Regions from separate parts of the Homo sapiens genome. Here region 1 is linked to region 2. The links come from fine-mapping of genetic effects on gene expression. A gene starts in region 2. The other region holds a variant in brackets. All regions are shown on one strand. Distances are from middle to middle. Region 1 overlaps COLEC11 (collectin subfamily member 11). Region 2 holds the start of COLEC11 (collectin subfamily member 11).

Region 1 (8,329 bases), 28 kb after region 2:
CTTTTGATCCACGAACAGATATTTTTTCCATTTATTTGTGTCTTCAATGTTTCATAGTTCTCAGTGTACAGGTACACAACACTTCCTTGGTTAAATTTATTCCTAAATATGTCATTCTGTTTGGTGCTACAGTCAAGGAGATTGTTTCCTTAATTTTTTTCAGGTGGCTCATTGTTAGTGTATAGAAATGCTGCTGATTTTCGTGTGTTGATTTTGTATCCTGCAACTTTACTGAATTTGTTTATTAGTGCTAACCAGTTTTTAGTGGAGTCTTTAGGGTTTTATTTATATAAGATTATGCCATCTGCAAACAGAGCCAGCTTTACCTCTCCCTTTCCAATTTGGATGGATCCCTCCCTCCTTCTTTCCCGCCTCCCTCCCTCCCTCTCCCTTTCTCTTCCTTTCTTTCTCTCTTTCCTTTTCTTTCCTTTCCCCTTTCCTTTTCTCTCCTTTCCACTTTCCTTTTTTCTTTCTTGCCTAATTGTTCTGGCTAGGACTTCCAGCACTATATTGAATACAAGAGGCGAGAATGGGCATCCTTGCCTTGTTTCTGATTTTAGAGTAAAGCTTTCAGCTTTTCACCAGTGAGTATGATGTTAGCTGTGGACTTCTCATACATGGCCTTTATTGTGTTGAGGTGCATTCTTTGTATATGTGCTTTCTTGAGAGCTTTTATCATGAAACAACACTGAGTTTTGTCAAACGTTCTTTCAGCATCTACTGATGATAATATGATGTTTATTCTTCATTCTGTTAATGTGGCATATCACATTTATTGATTTCTGTATGTTGAACCATCCCAGGCATAAATTTTGCTTGATCATGGTGTATAATACTTTTGTTTTTGAGACGGAGTCTTGCTCTGTTGCCCAGGCTGGAGTGCAATGGCATGATCTCGGCTCACTGCAACCTCCGCCTCCTGAGTTCAACCGATTCTCCTGCCTCAGCCGCCCAAGTAGCTGGGATTACAGGCACGCACCACCACGCTCAGCAAATTTTTGTATTTTTAGTAGAGATGAGGTTTCACCATGTTGGCCAGGCTGGTCTTGAAATCCTGACCTCAGGTGATCCACCTGCCTTGGCCTCCCAAAGTGCTGGGATTACAAGCATGAGCCACCGCTCCCGGCCGTGTATAATCTTTTTAATGTGCTGTTAAATTTGGTTTGCTAGCATTGTGTTGAAGATTTTTGCATCTGTGTTCATCAGGGATATTGGCCTGTAATCTTTTTTTCTTGTATTGTTCTTGTCTGGCTTTGGTATCAGGGTAATGCTGGCTTTTAAAAATTAGTTCAGAAGTATTCTCTCCTCTTCAATTTTTTGTAAGATTTTAGAAGGATTGGTATTAATTCCTATTTAAATTTTTGGTAAAGTTTGGCATGAGGCTACCAGGTCCTGGGCCTTTCTTCGATTGGAGATTTTTGACTACAGAATCAGTCTCATTACAGATCTGTTCAAATTTAGTATTTTTTCATTATTCAGTCTTTGTGGGTTGTATGTTTCTAGGAATTTATCCATTTCTTCTAGGTTATTCAAATTTTTGATGTATAATTATTCGTATTACTCTCTTATGACCCTTCATATTTCTGTGGTATCAGTTGTAATTTCTCCATTGCATTTCTGATTTTATTTGAGTTACCTCTTTTTTCTTCGTCTAGCTAAAGGTTCGTCAATTTTTTTTTTTGCCTTTTCAAAAAGCAACTCTTAGTTTTGTCGCTTTGCTACAGCTTTTCTAGTCTCTCTTTGATTATTTCTGCTCTGATCTTCGTTATTTCCTTACTTCTGCTAACTTTGGGCTTCATTTGCTTGTTTTTTTCTAGTCCCTTATGGTGTAAAGTTAGATTGTTTATTTGTAATCTTTATTTTCCCTCCATGTAGGTATTTATTGTTATAAAATTTCCTCTTAGAATATCTTTTTGCTGTAGCCCATAAGTTTTTGTATGTTGTGTTTTCATTTTCATTTGTTTCAAGATATTTTTTGATTTCTTTTTTGACTCATGGATTGTTCAGGAATGTGTTGTTTAATTTTCTCGTATTTGTGAATTTTCGTTTTCCTCCTCTTGCTGATTCCTAGTTTTATCCTGTTGTGGTTAGAAGAGACGCTTGATATGATTTCAGTCTCCTTGAATTTGTTAAGACTTGTTTTGTGGCCTAACGTATGAGCTATCTCAAAGAATGTTCCGTGTGCACTGGAGAGGAATGTGTTTTCTGCTGCTGTTGGATGGAATGTTCTCTGTTAGCTCCATTCGGTCTAAAGTGTAGTTTATGTACAATGTTTTCTTACTGATTTTCTGTCTGGGTGATCTTTCCATTGTTGAAAGTGAGGTATTGAAGTCCCCTACTATTAGTGTATTCTATCTGTTTGCCCTTCAGATCTGTTAATATTTGCTTTACATATTTAGGTGCTCCAATGTTGAATGTGTGTATATTTGTAATGATTATGTTTTCTTGATGAATTGACCTTTTATCATTATATAAAAACCCTTTTTTACTCTTGGCTACAGTTTTTGACATAGTCTATTTTGTCTGATATAAAATAAATATAGCTACGCCTATTCTGTTTTGGTTTCAATTTGTGTGGAATATCTTTTTCCATCCCTTCATTTTTAGTCTATGTGTGATCTTAAAGCTGAAGTGTGTCTTTTGTAGGCAGTGTATATAGTTGGGTCTTCTTTTTATTTATTTATTTTTATTAAGCTACTCCGTGTCTTTTGATTGGATAATTTAATCTATTTACATTTAAAGTAATTATTGATAGTTAAGGATTTGCCATTGCCATTTTGTTAATTGTTTTCTGGTCACTTGGTAGATCCTTTGTTTCCTTCTTCCTCTCTTGCTGTTTTCCTTTGTGGTTTGATAATTTTCTGTAGTAGTATGCATTGATTCCTTTTTCTTTCTTTTGTGTATGTACTAGGTTTTTTATTTGTGGTTACCACAAGGCTTATATAAAACATTTTATAGTTATAACAGTCTATGCTAAACTAATAACAACTTAACTTTGATCACACACAAAATTCTACACTTTTACACCCACCCCCCATTTTATGTTTTTGATATCACAATTTACATCTTTTTTATTGTACATCTATTAACAAATCATTGGGCCAGGTGCAGTGGCTCACACCTGTAATCCTGGCACTTTGGGAGGCTGAGGCGGGTGGATCACGAGGTCAGGAGTTCAAGACCAGCCTGGCCAGCATGGTGAAACCTCGTCTCTACTAAAAATACAAAAATTAGCCGGGTGCTCGCCTGTAGTCCTAGCTACTCAGGAGGCTGAGGCAGGAGAATCGCTTGAACCCGGGAGGTGGAGCTTGCAGTGAGCTGAGATTGTGCCACCGCGCTCCAGCCTGGGCGACAGAATGAGACTCCATCTCAAAAAAAAAAAAAAAAAGTAAAATATATTAGCTGGGTGGTATGTGCCTGTAGTCTCGGCTGAGGCAGGAGGATTGTTTGAGCCCAGGATCTGGAGGCTGCAGTGAGCTATGATGATGTCACTGCACTCCAGCCTGGGTGAGAGAGTGAAACCCTGTCTCTAAAAACAAACAAACAACAACAACAAATTATTGTGGCTATAGTTATTTTAATATCTTTGTCTTTTAACCTTTATACTAGAGTTATATATGATTTACACATAACCATTACACCATCAGAGTATTCTGAATTTGACTATTGCTATCATTTGAATGTTTGCCCCCTCCAAAACTCACGTTGAAACTTGATCTTTAATGTAATAGTATTGAGAGAGTGGGCCTTTAGGAGGTGACTGGATCATGAGTTCTCTGACATTATGAATGGATTGATCCATTTATGAGTTAATAGATTAATGGGTTATTACAGGAGTGGGTTAGTTATCATGAGAGTGGGACTATTATAAAAGCCAGGTGGCCTCTCTCGTGGGCCTCCTTACTGTGTGATGCCCTGTGCTACCTCAAGACTCTGTGGAGAGTTCTCATCAGATGTGGCCTCTTGACCTTGGATTTCCCAGCCTCTAGAACTGTAAAAAAGAATTTCTTTTCTTTATAAATTACCCAGTCACAGATATTCAGTAATGGCAACAGAAAACAGACTAAGGCAAGTATATAGTTTTATCAGTTATCTCTACACTTTTAAATGTTTTCATGTTACTAATTAGCATCCTTTTGTTTCAGCTTGAAGAACTTTCCTTTACATTTCTTGTAAGGGAAGTCTAGTGGGAACTTCTTTAGCTTTTGTGTATCTGGGAGACTCTTAATGTTTCCTTTATTTTTGAAGGATGGCTTTGTGAGTACATAATCTTATTGCCAGTTTTTTTCTTTCAGTACTTTGAATATATGATCCCACTTTCTCCTGGCCTGCAAGTTTTCTGCTGAGAAGTCTGCTGATAGCCTTATGAGGGTTCTCTTGGATGTGATGAGTTTCTTTTCTCTTTCTGCTTTCAAAATTCTCTTCTCGTCTTTGATTTATGGTAGTTTGATTATAATGTATCTTGGTGAAGTTTTCTGTGGGTTGAACCTATTTGGAGACTTTAAGCTTCATGTACCTTGATGTCCACATCACTCCCAAGTTTGGAAAGTTTTTTAGGCATTAATTCTTTAAATAAGCTTTCTATTAGCTTCTCTCTATATTCTCCTAATACAACTTCCATAATGTGAATGTTAGCTTTCTTGATGGTGTCCTTTAGATCTCACAGGCTTTCTTAATTTCTTTTAATGCCTTTTTTCTTTTCTCTTCTCTGATTGAATATTTTTAAATGACCTGTCATCAAGCTCACATATTCTTTCTTTTCTTTTGTTTGATCAATTCTGCTCTTGATGCTGTCTGCTGTATTTTAAATTTTATTCATTCTGTTCTTCAGCTTTAGAGTTTCTGTTTGGTTCTTTTTTTAAAAAAAAATCTCTATCTCTTCATTGAATTCCTCATTTTTAATGTATTGTTTTTCTGATTTTGTTGAGTTGTGTGTCTATGTTCTCTTGTATCTCATTGAGCTTCCTTAAAATGATTATTTTGAGTTCTTTGTTA[G/C]GCAATTTGTAGATCTCCATTTCTTTGGGATTGGTTTACTAGAGTATTATTGTGTTCCTTTGGTAATGTCATGTTTCCTTGATACTTTATATTCCTTGAAGTCTTGCATTGCTGTTTTCTCATTTGCAAAAGCAGTCACCTCCTCTAGTCTTTATGGACTTTTTTTGGGAGAGAGATTTCTTTACAAAACAGCCTGGCTAGGGATTCTGAGGCTCTCTCAGACCATTTCTGTGGATGCACCTGCTCCACACCTTTTGCTTCTCTTGGAGAGGGGTGAATTTTTAAAGAGTATATGCCTTTTCTTGATCCCACAAAGGCAGTCTAGGTGCTACTAGCCTCTCATTAGTTTCCCCTAGGGCAGTGCTCTGAAATGCTCAAGTTCTTGTGCCTTCTCCCTCCCCATCCCACACAGTCAAGCTATCTGTCTGTGTGAGATGCTGGCACTTGCCATCTGTGGGGGTGCCTTTGGGGAGCTGGCAGAGTGTTGGGTGAAGCATGTGAGCATTTGGGTGCCCGTGGTCCAGTTGGGATGGTTCACAGGAAAGGCGTCTCCATCAGCTTGTTGGGGGGCTTCCTAATAAAATCTGCAGAGCAATTATTAGGGTCCATAGCCTTTCTTCCTAGCTCCCAGTCTCTCCCAACTTCTCCTCCATGTCAGTCACCTCAGTATTGGAGGTGAGACAAGAAAGAAGCAGACTTTTTTTGGGCAGCATCCTGCATGGCTGGGGGAGCTGGAAGCTCACTTACTACACTTTCACTTACTCCAGTGGGAAAAAACATGGGCCAAGGGGGTTTCCCTGGGCACTGAGCTGTGTTGCTCAGCTCACAGTTGCTCAGCTTACAGTTGTGGGAAACGGTCACACGGGTAAAGTGAAACTGTTCTTACCCTCATCAGTGCATCTATTCTTGGATTTTTTTCTCTAACAGTGTGCTGGAACTTCTCCACTGGACTTCCAGACTCCTACAAAGACACTTTTGTTCATGGGGAGTTGTCAACATGGAAGCTTCTTTGGGGGGACTATGGTAGAAAGCTCCTCTTCTGCCATCCTCCTAACATCACCCATGTGTGCATGTCTTGTCTTCCTAATTAGATTATACATTCCTCAAGGGTAGGGATTTGTGGATCACACTCTGCCATCCTGCGAGTAAGTGGTTCCAAGTCCCTGATATAGTAGTTATTCCTAAGTATTAGATTGATAGATTTACAGAGGGTCATTAAACATACATTGACTACCCCAGAGATATGGGGTTAAAGTCTGATAGACTCTTTTCATTTCTACCTCTTAAAGAATCTTAATCAAAGGATCCACAAACACAATGGTTTGCTGATCCAAGGCGGCAAGGATTCTCTATTAAAACCTCTGAGGAATTCCCTTCTCCCTCCCTCCTTTCTTCCTTCCTTCTCCCACTTAGAAGTGGCAGCAGGCTTTTTCAGGCTCCGAGGCCTGTCCCCACTGATGTTCAGGTGTAGGTCAGGCTTCCATGCTCAAGCAGGCCTCAGGTCCCTGCTGAGGGGTGGGCACGGATGGAGGGTGAGCCTGAGGCAGGATGTGCAGGACAGCGACTGCTGAGACAGCGTTCTTGGCTGCCTTGTGGTGGGTGGGGGGCCATGGACCCAGCCCAGGGCGGGGGTTAGGGAAGGCACTCGGGAGGCTACTCGTAATTCAGGGTTTCTGAAATCTGGAGACAGGGAGGGCTAGGAGTCCATAAAGGGATGTGGCATTTGGCATCCCAGGGAGTCAGCTTAGGGGAGGGGCGTTTAGCACTCAGGGGTCTACTCTGTGCCTCAGCTTGGACCCATGAGTTTGGAAAGTTTCTTTTCTTCTTTTTTACTTTTTTTTTTTTTTTTTTTGAGACAGAGTCTCACTCTCGCTCTGTTGTCAAGGCTGGAGTACAGTGGCATAATCTTGGCTCACTACAACCTCTGCCTCCCGGGTTCAAGTGATTCTCCTGCCTCAGCCTCCTGAGTATCTGGGATTACAGGCGCCCACCACCACGCCCGGCTAATTTTTGTATTTTTAGTGGAGACGGGGTTTCACCACATTGGCCACACTGGTCTTGAACTCCTGACCTCAAGAGATCCGCCTACCTTGGCCTCCCAAAGTGCCGGGATTATAGGCATGAGCCGCCATACCTGGCAGACTTTGCAAAGTTATTTAACATCTCTATTATCTGAGTTGTCAGGCAGGGATAGTCATAACATTGTATTTACTTTTTCCAGCAGTCACAGCCAGTCGTGACAGCTTCTGACATCTCCAAAAGGAAGTGCACCTCGTCCTTTGTAGAAATGGGATCACAGGGTAATGGATCTGGAAATCCCACCTTCACACTTAAGTTGGACCCTGAGATGCAGAGAATAGGCAACCACTCTTCCCATGGCCACATGGCTTGGACAGAACTGGAGCAGAAGCCCCATTTCTAGATGGACGTGGTTTGCTGGGAGGGAGGAATATTGTTAGGCACAATGCGGTCCCAGCCTCAGCTGAGCAGTGCAGAGACCACAGACGTGGAACCAGACAGTCCTGGGCTCGCTGGGCCTGTCTGTATCGTGGCTCCACCACCTGTCAGTTATGTCAGCTTCTGGAATCAGCTTCGTCTTCCCAAGCCCCCTTTTTCTGTACCTGTAAAATGGGGGGTGGGGGGTGGGGATCTACCTCCCATGACTCCCAGAAGGGTTAAATGGAAGGATAGACGCACAATGTCTTGGATGCGGCAGTTGCCTGGTGCCTGGTGGCCTGGTGGTTGCTGTTATTATTCTCCGTTTGCACAGAAGAAAGTCTGAGCCCTGGTGCTTTTGTTCATGGGAACTCACTAGGGAATGAGCATGACTTCCGGCCTCTGCAATAACCAACTGACATTCTTTCTGATAATCGTGGCTGTTTCCGTCAGCTGTAAGTGCTCTGTTCTGGATAATGTTTATTCTCAAGGACATTAGGTCAAAGAGAGAATGGAATATGTTTACAAGGACATTAGGTCAAAGAGAGAATGGAATAAACTTAGGACTTTTTATACACAACCTGGGATGAATCTCCTCCCTGAGACCTAGGACACCCTGGGCGCTCTGCCTGTGTGGTAGGCGGTGCCCGGGCCCCAGGGGGCGCAGATGGGCTGGGAACCAGGACCTCAGCCGCCACCACCCTCCACACCCTCCCTGGAGTCTCACTTTCCAGTGGGACACAGCCCTGCCAACTCCCCTGGCCCACTGGCTCTTCTGCCCGTGGGCTTGCTAGCTGGGTGCTAGTGGATAGCTTTCTAGCTCGTTGCAGCGGGGGCACAGTGGCAGTTCCCTGATGACCGGTCACGAACATCTGTGGCTTCCATGGCATTATGCTGT
Region 2 (8,329 bases):
GGCAGAGGGGTTCCTCACTTCCCAGTAGGGGCGGCCGGGCAGAGGCGCCCCTCACCTCCCGGACGGGGCGGCTGGCCAGGCGGGGGGCTGATCCCCCCACCTCCCTCCCGGACGGGGCGGCTGGTCGGGCGGGGGGCTGACCCCCCCCACCTCCCTCCCGGACGGGGCGGCTGGCCGGGCGGGGGGCTGACCCCCCCACCTCCCTCCCGGACGGGGCGGCTGGCCGGGCAGAGGGGCTCCTCACTTCCCAGTAGGGGCGGCCGGGCAGAGGCGCCCCTCACCTCCCGGACGGGGCGGCTGGCCAGGCGGGGGGCTGACCCCCCCCACCTCCCTCCCGGACGGGGCGGCTGGCCAGGTGGGGGGCTGACCCCCCACCTCCCTCCCGGATGGGGCGGCTGGCCAGGCGGGGGGCTGACCCCCCCACCTCCCTCCCGGACGGGGCGGCTGGCCGAGCGGGGGGCTGATCCCCCCACCTCCCTCCCGGACTGGGCGGCTGGCCGGGCGGGGGGCTGACCCCCCCACCTCCCTCCCGGACGGGGCGGCTGGCCGGGCGGGGGGCTGATCCCCCCACCTCCCTCCCGGACTGGGCGGCTGGCCGGGCGGGGGGCTGACCCCCCCACCTCCCTCCCGGACGGGGCGGCTGGCTGGGCAGAGGGGTCCTCACTTCCCAGTAGGGGCGGCGGGGCAGAGGCGCCCCTCACCTCCCGGACGGGGCGGCCGGCCGGGCGGGGGGCTGACCCCCCCACCTCCCTCCCGGACGGGGCGGCTGGCCGGGCAGGGGGCTGACCCCCCCTCCCCCCTCCCGGACGGGGCGGCTGGCCGGGCAGAGGGGCTCCTCACTTCCCAGTAGGGGCGGCCGGGCAGAGGCGCCCCTCACCTCCCGGACTGGGCGGCTGGCCGGGCGGGGGGCTGACCCCCCCACCTCCCTCCTGGACGGGGCGACTGGCCAGGCAGAGGGGCTCCTCACTTCCCAGTAGGGGCGGCCGGGCAGAGGAGCCCCTCACCTCCCGGATGGGGCGGCTGGCCGGGCGGGGGGCTGACCCCCCCCACCTCCCTCCCGGACGGGGTGGCTGCCGGGCGGAGACGCTCCTCACTTCCCAGACGGGGTGGCTGCCGGACGGAGGGGCTCCTCACTTCTCAGACGGGGCGGTTGCCAGGCAGAGGGTTTCCTCACTTCTCAGACGGGGCGGCCGGGCAGAGACGCTCCTCACCTCCCAGATAGGGTTGCGGCCAGCAGAGGCGCTCCTCACATCCCAGACAGGGCGGCGGGGCAGAGGTGCTCCCCACATCTCAGACGATGGGCGGCCGGGCAGAGACGCTCCTCACTTCCTAGATGGGAAGGCGGCGGGGAAGAGGCGCTCCTCGCTTCCTAGATGGGATGGCGGCCGGGCAGAGACGCTCCTCACTTTCCAGACTGGGCAGCCAGGCAGAGAGGCTCCTCATATCCCAGACGATGGGTGGCCAAGCAGAGACGCTCCTCACTTCCCAGACGGGGTGGCGGCTGGGCAGAGGCTGCAATCTCGGCACTTTGGGGGGCCAAGGCAGGCGGCTGGGAGGTGGAGGCTGTAGCGAGCCGAGATCACGCCACTGCACTCCAGCCTGGGCACCACTGAGCACTGAGTGAACGAGACTCCGTCCGCAATCCCGGCACCCCGGGAGGCCGAGGCTGGCGGATCACTCGCGGCTAGGAGCTGGAGACCAGCCCGGCCAACACAGCAAAACCCCGTCTCCACCAAAAAAAAAAACGAAAACCAGTGAGGCGTGGCGGCGTGCGCCTGCAATCGCAGGCACTCAGCAGGCTGAGGCAGGAGAATCAGGCAGGGAGGCTGCAGTGAGCCGAGATGGCAGCAGCACCGTCCAGCCTTGGCTCGGCATCAGAGGGAGACCGTGGAAGGAGACCATGGAGGGAGACGGAGACGGGGACGGGGACGGGGACGGGGACGGGGACGGGGACGGGGACGGAGACGGAGACGGAGACGGAGACGGAGAGCTGATTCCTCCTATTTTATTCTTTTTCAAAATTGTTTTAGCTATTCTAGTTCCTTTCTCTTTTCATATACACTTTAGAATAGCCGTGTCTATATCTACAAAAATTATTGTTATGATTTTGATAGAAATTGTGTTAAGCTTGTACTGTATATTAACTTGGGGGAGAATCAACATTTTTACTCTGTTGAGTCTCCCAATCTATACTTTTTAATTTTCATTTTATTATTTTTGAAACAGGGTCCCACTCTGTCACCCAGGCTGGGGTGCAGTGGTGCGATCTCAGCTAACTGCAACATCCACCTCCCGGGCTCAAGTGATCCTTCCACCTCAGCCTCCTGAGTAGCTGGGACCATTCTACTATGCCCGGCTAATTTTTGTATTGTTTTTGTTAGAGACAGGGTTTCACCATGTTGCCCAAGCTGGTCTTGAACTCTTGGACTCAAGTGATCCTCCCACTTCAGCCCTGCAAAATGCTGGGATTACAGGCATGAGCCACTGTGCTTGGGGTGAGTCTCCTAATCTATGAAGACGACGTGTTTCTCTGTTTATTCAGATCTTTTTTGAGGTTTTCAGCAGCATTTTGTAGTTTTCAGCATGTAAGTTCTATATATGTTTTGTTAGATTTACACCTAAGTATTCCTTTTTTAAAGCAATTGTAAATGATATTATTTTGAATTTTGGTGTCTATGAGTTCATTGTTATTTTATAGAAATCTGCTTGGTTTTTCATTGTTTATTATTTTTTTGAGACAGAGTCTCGCTCTGTCACCCAGGCTGGAGTGCAATGGCACAACCTCAACTCACTGCACCCTCTGCCTCCCGGAGTCAAGTGATTCTCCTGCGTCAGCCTCCCGAGTAGCTGGGATTGCAGGCATGTACCACCATGCCTGGCTGATTTTTGTATTTTTAGTAGAGATGGGGTTTTGCCTTGTTGGCCAGGCTGGTCTCTAACTCCTGACCTCAGGTGATCCTCCCACCTTGGCCTCCCGAAGTGCTGGGATTACAGGTGTGAGCCACCACGCCTGGCCTACTTGGTTTTTTAAATGTTTGCCTTGTATCCTGTCACCTGTCACACTGATTTAATAGTTTCCAGGAGCTCTTTTGTAGACTCTGGGATTTTCTAAGTAGACAACCATGTCATCTGCAACAAGGGACAGAGTTATTTTATTTTTCGAATCTACATGCTGTTTATTTCCTTTTCGGGCCCTGCTGGTGTGCCTAGAACTTTAGCACTGCATTGAGTAAGAGGTAAGAGTGGACACCCTTGCCTTGTCTTGATCTCAGGAAGGAAACATTCCATTTTTGCCCATGAAGTATGATGTTAGCTGTGGCTTTGCCTTTGACAGATGCTCTTTATCAAGTTGAGGAAGGTCCCCTGCACCTATTTTTCTGAGAGTTTTTATCATGAAAGGTGTTGGTTTATGCCAAATGCTGTTTCTATATAAATTGAGATATTCATTTGATTTTCTTTGTTAGCTTGTTAATGGGTTTTTATCAAAGGAGCTTTGAATATTGACATAGCCTCACATTCCTGGATGAAACCCCATTTGGTCATAGTTGATAAATCTTTTTCTATATTGCTGAATTCTGTCTGTTAATATTTTATTAAGGATTTTCTCATCTATATTCATGAGGGTTATTGGTCTATAGTGTTTTTGTTCTGTCTTTGTCTGGTTTTGGTATCAGGGTAATAATCAACTTTATAAAATGAATTGGTAAATATTCCCTCCTCTTCTATTTTCTGGAAGAGGATGTGTAGAATTGGTGTTAATTTTTCTTTAAACGTTTTGTAGACCCTCCTGTGAAACCATCTGGCCCTGAAATGTCTTTCTGGGGAGCGTTTAAATTGCAAGTTCAATTCCCTTCCTTGGCATAGGGCTGTTGAATTATCTGTTTCATGCTGGGCATGTTGTAGTTCGTGTTTTCAAGAAGTGGTTCATTTTGTCTAAGTTGTCAAATTTATGTATAACTTCAATAATACGTTTTAAATAAAGAATCCATTATTTTTCCTTAATTTTATTATGTGTGTGGAATTTGTGTTTTTACAGTTTTATTTTATGATTTCTCAGTCTAAATAAATATTCACCTTTGAACCTAGCTTCTTATGATTGTAATTTTATATGTATCTTTTTCTTAAAGAAGGTTCCGCTATCCCCCAAAACATGCAAGATTCGGGCTGCATAGAAGCTGGATCTGTCCAGCCCCTGACTAACATTTGTTTCTGGCATTAAATGAAACTTGCCTTTAAATGAAACTTAAATGCGTAGAGTGAGTTTCCGGACTCACGTGTGGCCAGGTCTCCACAGGCCGTGGTCAAGCTCTTGCTGACTTTTGAAGCGAAATCCCATATGAACAAAGGAAAGGAGATCAGTCAGCTGCCCTCGTTTCTGTCTGATTGGTGCCAGGTGATGAGCGTCCCTCCTCTTTATGCTCTTTTGAATTTCCACAGTAGTCATGCTTATTTTTTCAAAAAACGAAAAGAAAGAAGAGAAAGCCAAAAAAGAAACAAAATTGGGATGTTCGGGTTGGAGAGTTAGCAGGGGCATCTCCAGGAGGGTCCTGCCCCCCACCCCAAAGCCGGCCTCAGGGAGTTCCAGGCGTTCCCACACTCCCCAGGCAGGACGGTGGACGCAGCGCAGACAGGAAGCTCCCCGAGATAACGCTGCGGCCGGGCGGCCTGATTTGCTGGGCTGTCTGATGGCCCGGGCCGAGGCTTCTCCCTGCGCCTGGGACTGCGGCCGCCTCTCTAAATAGCAGCCATGAGGCGCCTGGGGGCAGTGTCCTCGCGGGCCAGCGACGGGCAGGACGCCCCGTTCGCCTAGCGCGTGCTCAGGTAGGAGACTCTGCCCGGGGCTGCAGCTGAGGGTTTCACGGGGCTATGACAGTGCAGAGGGGAGGCAGGCAGGCTTCCAAACTGGGCGCGAGGTGGGCTCCTGCTGAGCGAGGAGGATGGGAATCTGTCCCTAGATCCAGGCAAAAGATTGAGTCTCAATAAATCTGGCACCAGAGTTCCAAAGTTTGATTAGTTCATGGCGGAAATTCGTGGAGCCTATTGATGAGATGGGATCCGACCCATGAGAGGTGCTGGATGATGGAGTCACCCTCTTGGGTGGCAGATTTCAAACAGCCCAAGGCCCAGGGGGCTAAACAGTCTTCGCTAATTCCAAACCGCAGTGCAGTACCTGGTCTCACAACCTGACGATTGTTCCTGAGCCTGAGCAGCGTCTGACGGGCCAGGCGGACAGCAGCCACGACTGCCCCCAGGGACCAGTGGCTCTGTGTTGGGCTCAGGAACGGGGATCAGAGAGGTGGGGGAAAGGTGGGCCTTGCTTTGGCAACTTTCCAGGGAAAGACTTTGAGTTCAGATGGGGTCATCTAAAACCAAGTGGGGTCATCTTGTCTCCAAAATTGGAAAGGAGGAAAGTTTCCTAGGGCCGCTGCCTCCTACCTGGATGCCTTGCGCTAGGAACTGGCGGTCTTTTTAGAGCTGAGGTGATGTGGTCGTTCTCAATTTAAAGATGAACGTTTAAAGCCATCTCATGTGCATAGCTGGAATTTTGGTTTGATGGGAAGCACTTTGCCTGTGGTAGGCAGAGCACTGCCCCAATCTTTCACAGCTATTCGATTTTGTTTACAATTTTGAAAAATCCATGTACCGTAGAAGAGAGCACACCGGTAATGTGCTGACCGCTGGGGGAAGATAAGAGAGGATAGGTGCCTTCTTACTCTGTGCTCTTGGTAAGAAGCTAAGAGGAGCGTGTGCTGTTGTGGGTGGAATCCAGGCTGCCCCAGAAGGTGCTCTGTCACTGTAGGGAGGGAAACACCGCGGTGGGGCTGGGGCAGTCCCCAGTGAGAGGAACCTCCTCATGCTTCAGGGATGTGGTTCTTAGGAGGTATTTGTGGTGCCTGTAAGATGCTGGGCCTTGCTGTAGATACTTAATGAAAAAGTAGAATAGCATGTTTGGCAACTGAAGCCATGATTTTTTCTCATTGTCTATTTCATTTTTTTTTTTTTTTTTGAGATGGACTCTGGCTCTGTCACCCAGGCTGGAGTGCAATGGCACCGTCTTGGCTCACTGCAACCTCCGCCTCCCAGGTTCAAGCGATTATCCTGCCTCAGCTTCCTGAGTAGCTGGGATTACAGGTGTGCATCATGGCACCTGGCTAATTTTTGTACTTTTTAGTGGAGAGGGGGGTTTCACCATGTTGGCCAGGCTGCTCTCGAACTCCTAACCAGGTGATCTGCCCACCTTGGCCTCCCAAAATGCTAGGATTATAGGCATGAGCCACTGGGCCTGGCCCCATTGTTTATTTCATTCATAACATGTATTTCCTCTCAGGATTCCACGTTTAACCCCCTCTCCCCTGCTTGTCAAGTCTGCCCCTTCCATTGATGGGAGGGCCCTGAGCGTCTTGGGCCCTGGCTGGGAGATAAGGATGTTGTTCTTAAAGAGGTCCTGGGGGTAGCTGTGGCTTCTCCGTTTACAAAATGGAATTCCTCTTCTAAGAAGGCAGTCAGAGGGCGAGACCTCTGGGAAGCAGAGACTCCTTCGGGCGCCTGGGTGCCCTCACCCTGTGCCTACCTGCCCTGGTTCCTGCTGTGCGTCTGAGAGCGCCCCGCTGCAGGGCCTGTGCCTCCTTTGTGCCCATAGGCCTAGCTGGGGCCCCTCGCAGGAAAGTGGACAGAAACTCTGTGAATGGGCAGCGGGGTCAGTGAATGAGTGGAGCGAGTGAAGGCATGAGAAATCCCAGCCTGGGCTGTTCCGGGGATCAGTGGATGAGTGAAGTGAGGGAAGGCACAAGAAATCCCAGCCTGTGCTGCTCCGGGGTCAGTGAATGAATGGAGTGAAGGCACAAGAAATCCCGGCCTGGGCTGCTCCGGGGTCAGTGAATGAATGGAGTGAAGGCACGAGAAATCCCAGCCTGGGCTGCTCCGGGATCAGCAGATGAGTGTGAGTGAAGGCACGAGAAATCCCACCTGGGCTGCTCTGGTGTCAGTGAATGAATGGAGTGAAGGCATGAGAAATCCCACCTGGGCTGCTCCGGGGTCAGCGGATGAATGGAGTGAAGGCACGAGAAATCCCGCCTGGGCTGCTCTGGGATCAGCAGATGAGTGTGAGTGAAGGCACGAGAAATCCTGCCTGGGCTGCTCTGGGTTTCTCTGCTCACTACTCACCCCTTTTCTTGGGAGACGGAGCCTGATCTTTGTTGAAGCCACTCCTGGGACATCTGCGGAGTGAGGGCAGTAAAAGCCTTGCTGAACACCTGGTTATACCTGAACAGAATCACTTCTAGCTAGAGGGGAAATTCCCATGTCAGCCTTTGATTCCTGAGACATTAAAAAAAAAAAAAACTAAACCCAGTTTGCATCCAGCAAACACTGAGAAGTGAGGTTCGACTTGCGTACTGAGTGGGTGGGGAGGAAGAGTTTACTATTGCTTTCAGAAGCCACATACCACAAGGAGCCAAAATACTGCTGCTGAGGCAGGAGCCGGGGAGACTACGGTTATGAGCCCAGTGGACCAGCACGTCTGGCTACAAACCTTGTGGTGCCCCTTGTTTTGACATTATTTTTGTATTTTTTATTTTTATTTTATTTTATTTATTTCATTTTTTTGAGACTGAGTCTCACTCTTATCACTCAGGCTAGAGGGCAGTGGTGTGATCTCGACTCACTGCAACCTCCACCTCCCGGGTTCAAGCGATTCTCCTGCCTCAGCCTCCCGAGTCACTGGAATTCCAGGCACCCGCCACCATGCCCAGCTAATTTTTGTATTTTTAGTAGAGACAGGGTTTCACCATGTTGGCCAGGCTGGTCTCGAACTCCTGACCTCAGGTGATCCACCCACCTCGGCCTCCCAAAGTGGTGGGATTACAAACGTGAGCCACTGTGCTTGGCCCATTTCAACATTATTAGGAATTTCAGGACAATGACAGCAGGGCAGTAACCCACGTCTGCAGACTGCCTGCCCTGGAAATACTGTGTAGACATTAGATATAATAAAGATTTGGAAACACGGAAACACCACGAGGAGAAGAGCAGAAGGCTCTATTTGCGATGCAATTGTGAACTTTCGTTCTGTTGTTTGTTCCTTTATTTACTCATTCACTTGTTCACTCAGTTTGGTGCCTGCTAAACTGCAGGCTTCTGCGTGCCCAGAGACCTTTACGAAGCTGTAGCTTGCACAGATCACTTGCATGTGGACCCAAGCCTGGCAGCGAACAAGGAAGGTGGGAGGAGTGAAGTCAGCTGGTGGGGTCCTGGGTTTCCGCTTTTCGGTTGCCCTTATTGTTCTAATATCCGCGTGAGCACAGGGGAGAAGGGTGTGGGCACAGGCAGC

The links. PIP is the estimated chance that this variant, and not a neighbour inherited with it, causes the effect.
Region 1: its variant is fine-mapped to the expression of COLEC11 in tibial nerve (GTEx, PIP 0.91).

Annotation. Positions count from the first base shown.
Region 1 is chr2:3,618,798-3,627,126 of GRCh38, forward strand. All of the region lies in intron 3 of COLEC11 (collectin subfamily member 11), which reads left to right. Among named protein-coding and RNA genes, the nearest start is that of COLEC11, 28 kb to the left of the region's middle. RefSeq lists a silencer at 3,222-3,371 and enhancers at 5,607-5,826, 5,857-6,096. The variant G/C (reference allele first, on the strand shown) is at 4,996.
Region 2 is chr2:3,590,348-3,598,676 of GRCh38, forward strand. COLEC11 (collectin subfamily member 11) reads left to right here and starts at 4,765. Exons shown (of 7, transcript NM_024027.5): 1 at 4,765-4,821.